3 separate regions of the Homo sapiens genome follow, and regions 2 and 3 are each linked to region 1. The links come from fine-mapping of genetic effects on gene expression. A gene starts in region 1. Each other region holds a variant in brackets. All regions are shown on one strand. Distances are between the middles of the regions. Region 1 holds the start of CCDC40 (coiled-coil domain 40 molecular ruler complex subunit). Region 2 overlaps CCDC40 (coiled-coil domain 40 molecular ruler complex subunit). Region 3 overlaps CCDC40 (coiled-coil domain 40 molecular ruler complex subunit).

Region 1 (4,167 bases):
AACTTGACCCAGACAGTAAAACAAACTTTACCATAAGGCGAGACTAACTTTTGTTATGTCTTTTCTATTCATTTCCTATTTCTGAATCAAATCTGAACTACTTTGTGGCCAATATACGACACCAGCTTCCGAGTGTGGGAATCACAGGATTTCAGGATTCAGCGGCTTCCGGCAGGATCCCCTAGGTTATGTTTAGCAATCTTCAGTTGCCTTTCCTTTTTTTCTTTCCTTCCTTTCGTTCTTTCTTTCTTTTTCTTTTTTTTTTTTTCCCAAAGGAAAGAACAAGGGAGCCCAGGCGGAACGGAAGTGAGTATCCCGACACGCGGATCTTAAACAGCCCAGACCACCAAGCCCGACAGGCCGGGAAAGCTGAGCGCGCGCTGCTGGGGGGACGCACACTTTGGAGGCTGTGTGGGCGCGCGCCGGCACCCCACAAGTTCTCATCCGTCTGCTCCGCCGATTCAGCCAGACAAAGACCGCAAGTTCCCCGGTCCACCGCTCCAGACAGGCGGGGACCAGTCTCCCCGAATTAGGCCCATTCCGGGCCCGGGCGCCCTCACTCGCCGCGGGGAAAAGTCCCCAGGTGCCCCTCCGTGATCCAGGTCCTCCCACAACGCTCCCGCTCCTGCTGGCGCCCCGCACCCCGAGGACGGCGGCCGGACCCCGGCCCCTCCCCGGTCCCGCGGCTGCAGGCCCACGCGCCCCACGCGCCCCGCGCGCCCCCGCCCCAGCTCCGCCGAGGGGGCGCTGCTCGCTGCGCGGTGGACCCCTCGGACCCCGCCCCCGCGGCCCCGTCCGGGCCCCGATACCCACCCGGGTCCCGCTGCGGGGGCCGGATTCGCGCCGGCTCCGAGAGCCGCCACCGTCGCCTCCGCCGCTGCCGCCGCCAGTGAGGCGCGGCGGGGCGGGGACGCGCGGGGAGGCCCGGCCCCCGGCCCGCCCCCGGGCCCGCCCCCGGCCCGGCCCCTGCCTGCCCCCGCCGGTCTCCCCGCCCACCTTCTGGCCCAGCCCTGGGCCCAAGCCTCTAGTTCCCTGCTGGCCCTCCCTCAGGCCTCGCCGCGTCCCGGCCTCGGGGACTGTGCCCCGTCCCGAGCCTGGCGTCCCCAAAGGAAAGGCAGGGCTCCTCGGACGCTCCGCGTGCGCGCTGGCCCTCCGCTGCCGCCCTCTGCAGGGAGATTTCTCCTATTTCGGACTAGGAAGGGAAGATACGCTCCGGAAGACCCCCCGGGCGTCCATGCAAGGAGTCTCCGTAGGACCCCTGGAGAAGGGCACCGGAGCCCCCTAGGGCAGGAGATGGAAAAGCGCTCGCCATGCGCGGGGTCCCCGGCCCCCGGTGCCCCCAGCCCGCCTGCCATTCCCGGGCGCTTAGCAGTCCGGGGTCCCCAGGTGCCCGGCAGGTCCCTTCGGGACCTCGAGCCGCCCGCTGGGCACACGCTGACGCCGCTGTCGCTTTACAGAAATTGAGCGCAGCCGAGGCGGGACCCGGGCGCAGAGAGCGATAAAGGAAAAGCATGGTCGTGCTCTAATCATTACAGTCTAAGGGACGACACGTCGAGACGGCGCGCGCCTCTGCGTGCGTGGAGATGGCACAAAGGCCGCGCCGCCCCCGGCGGCCCCCGCCCTCGCAGCGCGCGTGGTCCCGGCCCGGCCGGATGTTGACAGCGTCGCCTAGCAACGGGAAATGGCGGAACCGGGCGGCGCGGCGGGCCGGTAAGCCGGGCCGAGGGGCAGCGGGTCTTGGAGTCGCCAGGCCGCGCTCTCCGTTCACCGCTCCAGGTGGCCCCCGCGTCGGCTCCTGCCTCGCCCCTTCGCCTCCACTCCCCCTTCCTCTCGCCTGTGTCCCTTCTCTCGCCATTTTGCTGGCCTTTCCCGTCCACTGCGTTCAGCCCCTCACCCCCCCGCCAACCCTTCTCACTTCTCCCCTCCTGTCCCTTTGTCCTCTCTCGGCCTCCCTCTTTCCCCTACTCCAAGCGCGCGACTCCCTCTAAAACCCGGGACCGCTCACTCTGCAGTCACCATGGCAACCACTCTGCGTGGCGGTCCCTGCGCGCAGTCCTCCTAAGAGTAGAGGGCTCTGCAGGGCGCGGGGCTGTTGGATACCGCCCCTGACCTTGCTCCGGGGCCACTCGCTGTGGCCGGAGACCAGCCCGGCCCCGCGCCTCCCTCCTGCAAGGACAGATCCCCTCTCGCAGGCTTGGGGGTGACCCGCGATGGGAGGGGTCCCTGCGGTTAGGCGGCCCGCGATAGTCCGCGGTCACCGTCCTGGGGCCTGGGTGGAAGCACTGAGCGCGCACAGGGAGGGCGGCTGAGTGAAGATCCCTGCCACCGGGCCTCTGCTCGCTTAGGCTCTGTTTAAAAGGATAGAAACGATTGGAAAGAGTTTGGCCTTTTTACCTTAGACACATCGGTATTGTTTCATTTTTTTAAAGGTGGGTCTGTATGTATTGACATGGAAAGACTAAAGGTATTATTAATAAAACGATAGGCATAAATGTAAAAGGGTAGGTATACTATGATCTCTAATTCAGGGTGTGTGTGTGTGTTTAAAACATAGAAAAATGTTGAAAGAATGTGGTCCTAAATGTTATCAATGATTATCTTGGGAAGGAAAGGGAAGATCACAGGGAACTGTCACTGTCTGTCTCTTTGAACATATCTATATTCCTTTGACAGATAAAAATAGCTTGAATCTTTAATTTTTTAAAAAAGATATACATATATATATATATATATATATATTCCTGTGCTACGTAAATCGTGGAGAAACTCAGAGTCCCCAGAACACTTACTCTGATCGCGCTACTTTCTCTACGTTGTATTTCTTTTCCCCAGTTTTGTCCCAGACACAAGTTATATTTGAGGTGACTTTTCTGGGGTGATCTAATCCTGCTGTTCCTTCGATGTTTTAATAATTATATTTTTCATTCATTCATGGAGCTTTGCTTTTGTGGCATCTCCGCCACCTGACAGGCATGATATAGTGCTATGGTTCCTGACAAACAGGACAAAGACGTGACAACAGCCTGGGGGTGGCAGAGAAGTAACAAGTAAATAAACAGATGTGCAGAATTCAGGAGGGGATAAGGACCAAGAAAAAGAAAGCTGTTGCTTGAAACTGTTCAATTGTTTCTCTAAAACCAGGTCCCATCCGGAAGATGGATCGGCTTCTGAGGGAGAGAAGGAAGGGAATAATGAAAGCCACATGGTAAAATTCCCTATGGGCAGTTATTCCGGGCTTATATTTACTAGGAATTAAAGAGAATCAGAGTACGGGCACTGTGGCTCACGCCTGTAATCCCAACACTTTGGGAGGCCAAGGCAGGTGGATCACATGAGGTTAGGAGTTTGAGACAAGCCTGGCCAACATGGTAAAACCCCATCTCTACTAAAAATATAAAAATTAGCCGGGCGTGGTGGTGCGCACATGTAGTCCCAGCTACTCGGGAGGCTGAGGCAGGACAGTGGCTTGAACTCGGGAGACAGAGGTTGCAGTGAGCCAAGATCACACCATTGCACTCCAGCCTGGGTGACCAGTGAAACTCTATCTCAAAAATAAATAAATAGGCCGGGCACGGTGACTCACGCCTGTAATTCCAGCACTTTGGGAGGCCGAGGCAGGCAGATCACGAGGTCAAAAGATCGAGACTATCCTGGCCAACATGGTGAAACCCTGTCTCTACTAAAAATACAAAAATTTGCCAGGCATGGTGGTTCACGCCTGTAGTCCCAGCTACTCGGGAGGCTGAGGCAGGAGAATGGCTTGAACCTGGGAGATGGAGGTTGCAGTGAGCCGAGATTGTGCCACTGCACTCAGCCTGGCGACAGAGCGAGACTCCATCTCAAAAAATAGATAAATAAAATTAAATTAAAAATAAATAAATAAAGAGAATTAGGACTTGGTCAAGTATATTGTATGATGACATTATCTTGCACCAGAACAAACTCAATTCAGTTGAAGAGAGACTCATTTTCTTCCTACCCCATTCTACAGTGTCAGTGATTAGTCAGGGATGCAAAGGATGTCCAACTTTGGGTTGCCCTGAGTTTTTCGGAACTCATTTCCTGTAACAAAGGATGCAAAAATGATTATGAAAAGCAGAGAGGGCCAGGCATGGTGGCTCACGCCTGTGGTCCCGGCACTTTGGGAGGCTGAGGCGGATGGATCTC
Region 2 (4,167 bases), 24 kb after region 1:
ACTAGACTGCACCTGCCCGTCTGCTGGATGAGTGACTGCAGCCAGCTTACATCTGCAAACATCGGGCCCTCCCCATGGTGGGGCCACAGTAGATACTGACAGGTGGACAGCCCGGATTCCTATTCCTTCCCTGGCTAGTGGGTGACAGAAGGCCTCGCAGGGTTCAGGTACTCTAGTCGCTTCATGACCGCCAAGGCCAGCTTGCTGCGGGGATGCTCAGCAAGTTCCTTAGCCTGCAGGGACCTCTTCCGGGGAGGACTGAAGTCTTTCTAACAATTCTCACCCCCGTGGGCAGCCGGCCTTCCGGGTAGCTCCTACATCTCTGCACCTCGTGGAGTAGGGAGTGGAGGGAACGAAGGGGGTGAAAGCTGCTCCCTCTTGGCCCCAGATTCAGGTCTGTAGTGGTAGCACCAGAAACCAAAGTTACTGCAACTTAAAAAAAAAAAAAAAAAAACTATGAGTCACCATCTTCATTCACGGGTGCGGGAATGACACGGAGGAAACAATTAACTTTTTTTTTTTTTGAGACAGAGTCTCGCTCTGTCGCCCAGGCTGGAGTGCAGTGGCACAATCTCAGCTCACTGCAACCTCCGCCTCCCAGATTCAAGCAATTCTCCTGCCTCAGCCTCCAGAGTGGCTGGGACTACAGGCGCCCACCTCCATGCCCAGCTAATTTTTGTATTTTTAGTAAAAACAGGGTTTCACCATGTTGGCCAGGTTGGTCTCAAACTCCTGACCTCAGGTGATCCACCCACCTCGGCCTCCCAAAGTCCTGGGATTACAGTCATGAGCCACCGTGCCCAGCCAATGAAAAAGAAGGAAGAGGACTTGAAGGAACGGATGAGCACGCTGGGCTCCCAGGGTAAAGGGAGGGCCCGGGGCTGGGCGTTACTCAGCACTGGTCTCTCCAGCTACAAATGCAATTAAAGTAGAGCACGTCCCAATCAGAATCTCAGGAACAAACAATCCCTTAGTTAACAAAACAATTCTGGAGTTTTATCTGAAAAATAAATTAGGAAGGCTAGCCAAGAATGGTTTTGGAAGAGAAGATTCAAACGGGGCAAGCAGCCATCCCAGTCTGCTCAGGACTGAGGGGTCCCCAAGACAAGGGACTTTCCATGCTAAGCCCAGGGGGTCCTGGACACAGCAGGATGGCAGATCACCCTAGCATCGCCGCACCAAATATTAAAGTATACAGTAAAGCTCTGGCCAGGCAAGGTGGTGCACACCTGTAATCCCAGCACTTGGGGAGGCTGAGGCAAGAGGATGGCTTGAGCCCAGAAGTTCAAGACCAGACTGGGCAACATGGTGAGACCCTGTCTCCACAAAAAAATAATAATTAAAAAAAAATAAAACATTAGCCCACCATGGTGGTGTGCACCTGTGGTCCCAGCTACTCAGGAGGCTGAGGCAGGAGGATCACTTAAGCCCGGGAGGTCAAAAAAAAAAAAAGAACAACAACACTTTATTCTCAACGAATTGATTTTAAAGTTCACTTAGAAGACTAAATGCTCAAGAATACCCAAGAAAATTTTGAAAAGGAAGGATCATGAAAGATCCTTGAACTATGAAAGATCCAATGAAATATGATCATACCACTGCACTCCAGCCTGGGCTACGGAGCAAGACCCTGTCTAAAATAAAACAAAACCGTAAAGTTCTAGAGGCTAAAATAATGTGTCACAAGATAGACAGGCAAGACATTGAAGCCTATGAGAGAGCCCCAAAGCAAGCCAGAGTTTATATAAAAACCTAGTAGATTATAAATTACCAGAGAGCTAATGAATTATGCATCCAATGATGTCGGGACATTTGGTTAATCATTTGGGAAAAAATTAAATCTTTTCCTCATACCAGACACTAAAATAAATTCCAGATGGAATCAAGTATTTAAATGGGGGAAAATGTGCCAGACGAAAACAAATGAAAATATTTATATAATCCTGGGCTGGGGAGGCCTTTCAAAGTATAACACCAAAAGCAGGAACCTTAAAGGAAAAGACTAGGAGGGGC[C/T]GGGTAAGGTGGCTCACGCCTGTAATCCCAGCACTTTGGGAGGCCGAGGCCGCTGGATCACCTGAGGTCAGGAGTTCGAGACCAGCCTGGCCCGCATGGCAAAACCCCATCTCTACTGAAAATACAAAAATTAGCTGGGCGTGGTGGTACACGCCTGTAATGCCAGCTACTTGGGAGGCTGAGGCAGGAGAATCGCTTGAACCCAGGAGGCAGAAGTTGCAGTGAGCCGAGATCATGCCATTGCATTTCAGCCTGGGCGACAGAGCCAGAATCCATCTCAAAAAACAAAACAAAACAAAAGACTAGGAGGACAATCACACCCTCAATAAAACCTTTGTAGATTAAGGACGCCACAAACCAGATGAAGGCGGGGAGACAGGCAGGAGAAGACAACTCGCAGCCATTAGTAAATCCGGGGTTGTGAAGAGAGGCTGAAAGCCAAGGAGACTCGCCCTGTGTGCTTCCACACCCTGGAGGCAGGTGGGCTACTTGGTAGATGCTTCCTTTTGCACCTCCCGCCCTCCCCTCGATGCAACTTCCCCAGGGAAGGGGGCCGCCCGCACTTCCTTCATTTCTCATTTCCAGTACCCAGAACAGTGCGGGGGCAACAGCAGGGCCCCTGTTCATCGAGCGAAGTCACAAGTAACCAAAGGACAGGGAGTCCCCTACAGAGTTGGCAAAGATAAGGAGAGATGAGCCCTCCCTGCTGTCGGCCATGAAAATACAGATTGGCCTTTATCTTTATCAAGATCTTCATCCAGGGCGATATGATCATATGCAGCCACTCCCTCCCTAACCCTAACCCTAACCCCGCACCCTGTTAGTGCTTAGACTCCATTCCAAGGAACCTAGCAAAGACCTATGCAGATAACATTTTTGTATGTTAAAAATGATAAAGCCAGGCTTGGTGGGGTGCACCTGTAGTCCCAGCTACTCAGGAGGCTGAAGCAGGAGGAGCACTTGTGCCCAGGAAGTCAGGGCTGCAGTGAGCTATGATTGCACCACTGCACTCCAGCCTGGGTGACAGAGTGAAACCCCCGTCTCTAAAGAAATAAATACAGTGAATAGAGACTCATGGGGGAGATGACGCTCATCACCGTGTTGTGTCATCAGAAAGAAAGACCCCAAGAAGAGGACATTAGTGAAACCCATTTTCATACACCTGTGCATCAGAATACACTACACCAAAAAGAGCTCTACTGACATGGAAACCTGTCTCGATATTAATTTCTTATTTTAATTTTTTTTAAATTATACTTTAAGTTTTAGGGTACACGTGCACGATGTGCAGGTTTGTTACATATGTATACATGTGCCATGCTGGTGTGCTGCACCCATTAACTCGTCATTTAGCATTAGGTATATCTCCTAATGCTATCTCTCCCCCCTCCCCCCACCCCACAACAGGCCCCGTTGTGTGACGTTCCCCTTCCTGTGTCCATGTGTTCTCATTGTTCAATTCCCACCTATGAGTGAGAACATGCGGTGTTTGGGTTTTTGTCCTTGCAATAGTTTGCTGAGAATGATGGTAGAGACTAAGTCTCACTCTGTCCCCCAGGCTGGAGTGCACTGGGGCCCTCATGGCTCACTGTAGCCTCAAACTTCTGGGTCCAAGCAATCCTCCCACCTCAGCCTCTCAAGTAGGTAGGACTATAAGCACATGCCACCACACCGTGCTAATTTTTTTATTATGATTATTCTTTTTGTAGAGACGGTGTTTCTTTTTGTTGCCCAGACTGGTTGGGAACTCCTGGCCTCAAGTAATCCCCCCGCCTCAGCCTCCCAAAGTGCTGGGATTACGGGCATGAGCCACCGCACCTGGCACAATACATTAATTTTTAATATGGCGGGGCATGGTGGCTCACACCTGTAATCCCAGCACTTTGTGAGACCGAGGTCGGCAGATCACCTGAGGGTCAGGAGTTCGAGACCAGCCTGGCCAACATGGTGAAACCCCGTCTCTACTAAAAATTCAAAAATTAGCCAGGCGTGGTGGCGAGTGCCTATAATCGCAGCTGTTCGGGAGACTGAGACAGGAGAATTGCTTGAACTCAGGAGGCGGAAATTGCAGTGAGCCAAGATCGTGCCATTTTGCTCCAGCCTGGGTGACGAGAGTAAAAGTGTCTCAAAAAAAAAAATTAATAGGAGATTATG
Region 3 (4,167 bases), 43 kb after region 1:
CAAGGTGGGCGGATCACGAGGTCAGGAGATTGAGACCATCCTGGCTAACACGGTGAAACCCCATCTCTACTAAAAATACAAAAAATTAGCCGGGCGTGGTGGCGGGCGCCTGTAGTCCCAGCTACTTGGGAGGGTGAGGCAGGAGAATGGCATGAACCTGGGAGGCGGAGCTTGCAGGGAGCCAAGATCACGCCACTGCACTCCAGCCTGGGCAACAGAGCGAGACTCTGTCTCAAAAAAAAAAAAAAAAAAAGGAAAGAAAAAGAAATGTCTAAGGGTCACGAAGATTTTCTCCCAAGTTTTCCACTAAAGTTTTCCAGGTCTCGCTTTTAGGCATCTGGTCCATTTCAAGTTCACGTTTGTTGTGGTATGAGCGGGGTCCAGGCTCAGGTTTTGTGTGTCTCTCTCTAGTTGTCCCAGCACCACTTGTTGAAAAGACTGTCCTTTCCGTATTGAAATCCTGTGACACCTTTGTCAAAGATCAATGTATTGTGTGTGTGTGTCTGTTTCCAGACTCTCTATTCTGTTCCGTTGATCTTTTTGTCATTCTTTCACCAATACCACATTGTCTTTCTAACTAGAGCTTTATGGAAAATCTTGAAATCAGATAGTCTGAGTCTTTGATGTTGTTTTACAAAATTATTTTGGTTACTCTAGGTCCTTTAGGTTTCCATTTAAATTTTAAAACTTGCTTGTCAATTTCTGGGGAAAAAATGCCTTCTGGGATGTAACTGAAATTACATTGAATCCATAGATCAGTTTGAAGAGAATTGAGGCCTTAATAATATTAAATCTTCTGCTTCATGGACATGGCAAATCTCTCCAGTATCAGTATCTTTTTTTTTTTTTTTTTTTGAGTCAGAGTCTTGCTCTATCACCTGGGCTGGAGTGCAGCGGAACAATCTCAGCTTACTGCAACATCCGCCTCCTGGGTTCAAGTGATTCTCATGCCTCAGTGTACCAAGTAGCTGTGAACACAGCCACACACCACCACGCCCGGCTAATTTTTTTTGTATTTTTAGTAGAGATGGGGTTTTGTCATGTGGGCCAGGCTTCCTTTCTCTATTGATAGTGTCTTATCCTTTGAATAAGTTTTTATTCAAATAGTCAGAAAGTACTTTCTTCTTGGACTAGAATAATACCTTCCATATTTTTCTCACATCTCTCCCCAGTCTTTCAATTCTCTTTCCCAAGCAACCTGTTACTGTTTCATAAAGGTCTTTCCAGATAGATTTCGTTCATACATATGCATTATTCTCGGGTGTTTATCTCTCCACTTAAAAATCACCCGCGGCCGCTTAGTGTGTCCCGCTCTGCAGCTTGGTGTTTCTTGTGCTGTGTCTTAGAGTTATTCCATGTCAGAACACATAGAAATCACCGTTGTTCTTTGCAGTTCTCTTCACACTGTGTTCTAAATGATGCCTGTGCCATAATTTAATCATCCTCATCGATCCATAATGAGGCCCTTTCCTGTTTTTTGGCTTTTTCTGATCTCATCAGTGGATCAATAAATATCCACACACATTAAAAATAGATACTGGATCACCAGGCACGGTGGCTCATGCCTGTAATCCCATCACTTTGGGAAGCTGAGGCAGGTGGATCACTTGAGGTCAGGAGTTCGAGACCAGCCTGGCCAACAGGGCGAAACCCTGTCTCTACTAAAAATA[CA/C]AAAAAAAAAAAAAATAGGCAGGCATGGTGGCACACGCCTGTGGTCCCAGCTACTCAGGCAGCTGAGGCATGAGAATCGCTTGAACCCAGGAGGTTGCAGTCAGCCGAGATCGCGCCACTGTACTCCAGCCTGAGTGGCAGAGCGAGACTCTGTCTCAAAAAAAAAAATACTGGATGGCCAGGCGCAGTGGCCCACACCTGTAATTCCAACACTTTGGGAGGCCGAGGCAGGTGGATCACTTGAGGTCAGGAGTTCAAGACCAGCCTGGCCAACATGGTGAAACCCCATCTCTACAAAAATACAAAAATTAGCTGGGCATGGTGGCACACACCTGTAATCCCAGCTACTTGAGTGGCTTGAGGCTGCAGTGAGCTGAGATCATGCCATTGCACTCTAGCCTGGGTAACAGAGTGAGAGACTGTCTCAAAAAAAAAAAAAGAAAGAAAGGAATGAAAGGAATGTTTAAAGTACCGCAGAACATCTCAGAATAATAGGAAAACATGCCTCACACACACAAAATTCAAATCCTCATGCTGAGGCGTAAGAATGACTTGAACCCAGGAGGCAGAGGTTGCAGTGAGGCAAGATCGTGCCTCTGCACTCCAACAAATACAGGATTTGAATCTGATTATTTCATTTGAATCAGTATTTTAGATCTGATTATCCGATATCTGTGTTTTAGAGCTTGACGTTAATTACAGGTATCTCATCGCAGCATGCCGAGGGGAAAGACAATAGAATTTGAAGTGGGCCCACTGGTGTTCCCTCAGCCACGCTGTTTCCTGCAGACCTTGGGCTAGTGATTGAAATGCTCTGAGTCTCAATGGCCACATCTGTAAAGCTGGACTATTTCCTTCCTAGGATTATTGTCATGGTTAAGGAAGGTGGGCAGATGAGAACCCCTAGCCCAACGTCTGACCCATGCGTCACTTTCCTTCTCCCCATAATCACAGTACAAAAGAGTTGTCAACTTGGGCTTTCAATAGATAATAGTTCTCTTGATCTATTTGAAAATAATAGTCAAGATTTGGCTATTGGCTGCAAAAATACAGTGAGGGAGAAGGAACAAGGCCCAGTGTTCAATAGCATGTCACAGTGACTACAGTTCACGGTAAGTTAGTGTATATTTCTGAATAGCTAGAGGAAAAGATTTGGAATGTTCTCAACACGAAGGAAGGATCATGTGTGAGGTGATAGATGGCCGGTTCCCCTGATTTGATCATGACATGCTGTATGCTTGTGTCAAAATATCGCATGTACCTCTCAAATATGTGCCAATCTATCCATAAAAATTTTTTAAAGATTTGGCTGCTATTAAAAGAGTTGGTTTCCTGCTGGGTGCAGCGGCTCACACCTGTAATCCCAGCACTTTGGGAGGCCAAGGCAGGCACATTGCTTGAGCTCAGGAGTTGGAGACCAGCCTGGGCAACACGGTGAAACCCCATCTCTACAAATAGAGTTTAAAAATTAGCCGGGCATGGTGGCGCACACCTGTAATCCCAGCCACTCAAGAGGTTGAGGCATGAGACTCGCTTGAACCCGGCAGGCGGAGGTTGCAGTGAACCGAGATCGCACCACTGTATTTCAGCCTGGGTTACAGAGTGAGACTCTGTCTCAAAAAATAAATAAATAAATAAATAAATAAGAGTTGGCTTCCTAATTTATTTCTCTGTGCATTGAGTTCGCCTTAGTGAGCTCCCTCGTGTGGGGCGCAGCTCTGTGCACTGGCTCTCTGATGTCTCACACGTAACTGGCTCTCCCCGCTGCATTTCTACAGAGGATGCCAGCATCAAGCCAAATCCACCGACGGCGAGATTGAGGCCTATAAGAAATCCATCATGAAGGAGGAAGAAAAGAACGAGAAGCTGGCGAGCATCCTGAACCGGACAGAGACGGAAGCCACACTGCTGCAGAAGCTCACCACCCAGTGCCTGACCAAGCAGGTGGCCCTGCAGAGCCAGTTCAATACCTACAGGCTCACCCTGCAGGACACAGAGGATGCCCTCAGCCAGGACCAGCTGGTGAGGCCGGGCCCGCCCCACAGGTCACACCTGGCGCACGGTGGTGCCTCTTCAGGCACGTGCACCCTGTGGCTCCTTGTCTCCAGGAACAAATGATACTCACGGAGGAGTTGCAGGCCATCCGCCAAGCCATCCAGGGCGAGCTGGAGCTCAGGAGGAAGACGGATGCTGCCATCCGGGAGAAGCTGCAGGAGCACATGACCTCCAACAAGACCACCAAATACTTCAACCAGCTCATCCTGAGGCTGCAGAAGGAGAAGACCAACATGGTAGGCCCCTGCCCCAGGGAGGGGCTGTGCGAAGCCCCCTGCAGCCTGGGCATATGAGGGCAAGCCGTCCTGGAGGCGGAGAGGGCGGAGTCAGTGTGAGCAGAGGGCCCTCCTGTGCTCACTCCTTTCCATGGTGTTCAGGTTGTAAGGGTGATACATTTTTACTGTAGAAAACCTAGAAATAGGCCAGGCGTGAGCCACCGCA

What was found.
Region 2: its variant is fine-mapped to the expression of CCDC40 in tibial nerve (GTEx, PIP above 0.99).
Region 3: its variant is fine-mapped to the expression of CCDC40 in subcutaneous fat (FUSION, PIP 0.95).

The regions. Positions count from the first base shown.
Region 1 is chr17:80,034,982-80,039,148 of GRCh38, forward strand. It overlaps CCDC40 (coiled-coil domain 40 molecular ruler complex subunit), which reads left to right and starts at 1,661. Exons shown (of 20, transcript NM_017950.4): 1 at 1,661-1,710; 2 at 3,142-3,205. The coding sequence starts at 1,682. TBC1D16 (TBC1 domain family member 16) reads right to left here and starts at 891. Exons shown (of 12, transcript NM_019020.4): 1 at 814-891. RefSeq lists a silencer at 890-959 and enhancers at 1,150-1,269, 2,169-2,463.
Region 2 is chr17:80,059,054-80,063,220 of GRCh38, forward strand. All of the region lies in intron 9 of CCDC40 (coiled-coil domain 40 molecular ruler complex subunit), which reads left to right. It overlaps LOC124904074 (a long non-coding RNA gene), which reads right to left. Exons shown (of 2, transcript XR_007065931.1): 2 at 1-432. Among named protein-coding and RNA genes, the nearest start is that of CCDC40, 24 kb to the left of the region's middle. The variant C/T (reference allele first, on the strand shown) is at 2,014.
Region 3 is chr17:80,078,097-80,082,263 of GRCh38, forward strand. CCDC40 (coiled-coil domain 40 molecular ruler complex subunit) reads left to right here. Exons shown (of 20, transcript NM_017950.4): 11 at 3,450-3,693; 12 at 3,780-3,962. Among named protein-coding and RNA genes, the nearest start is that of MIR1268B, 19 kb to the right of the region's middle. The variant CA/C (reference allele first, on the strand shown) is at 1,671.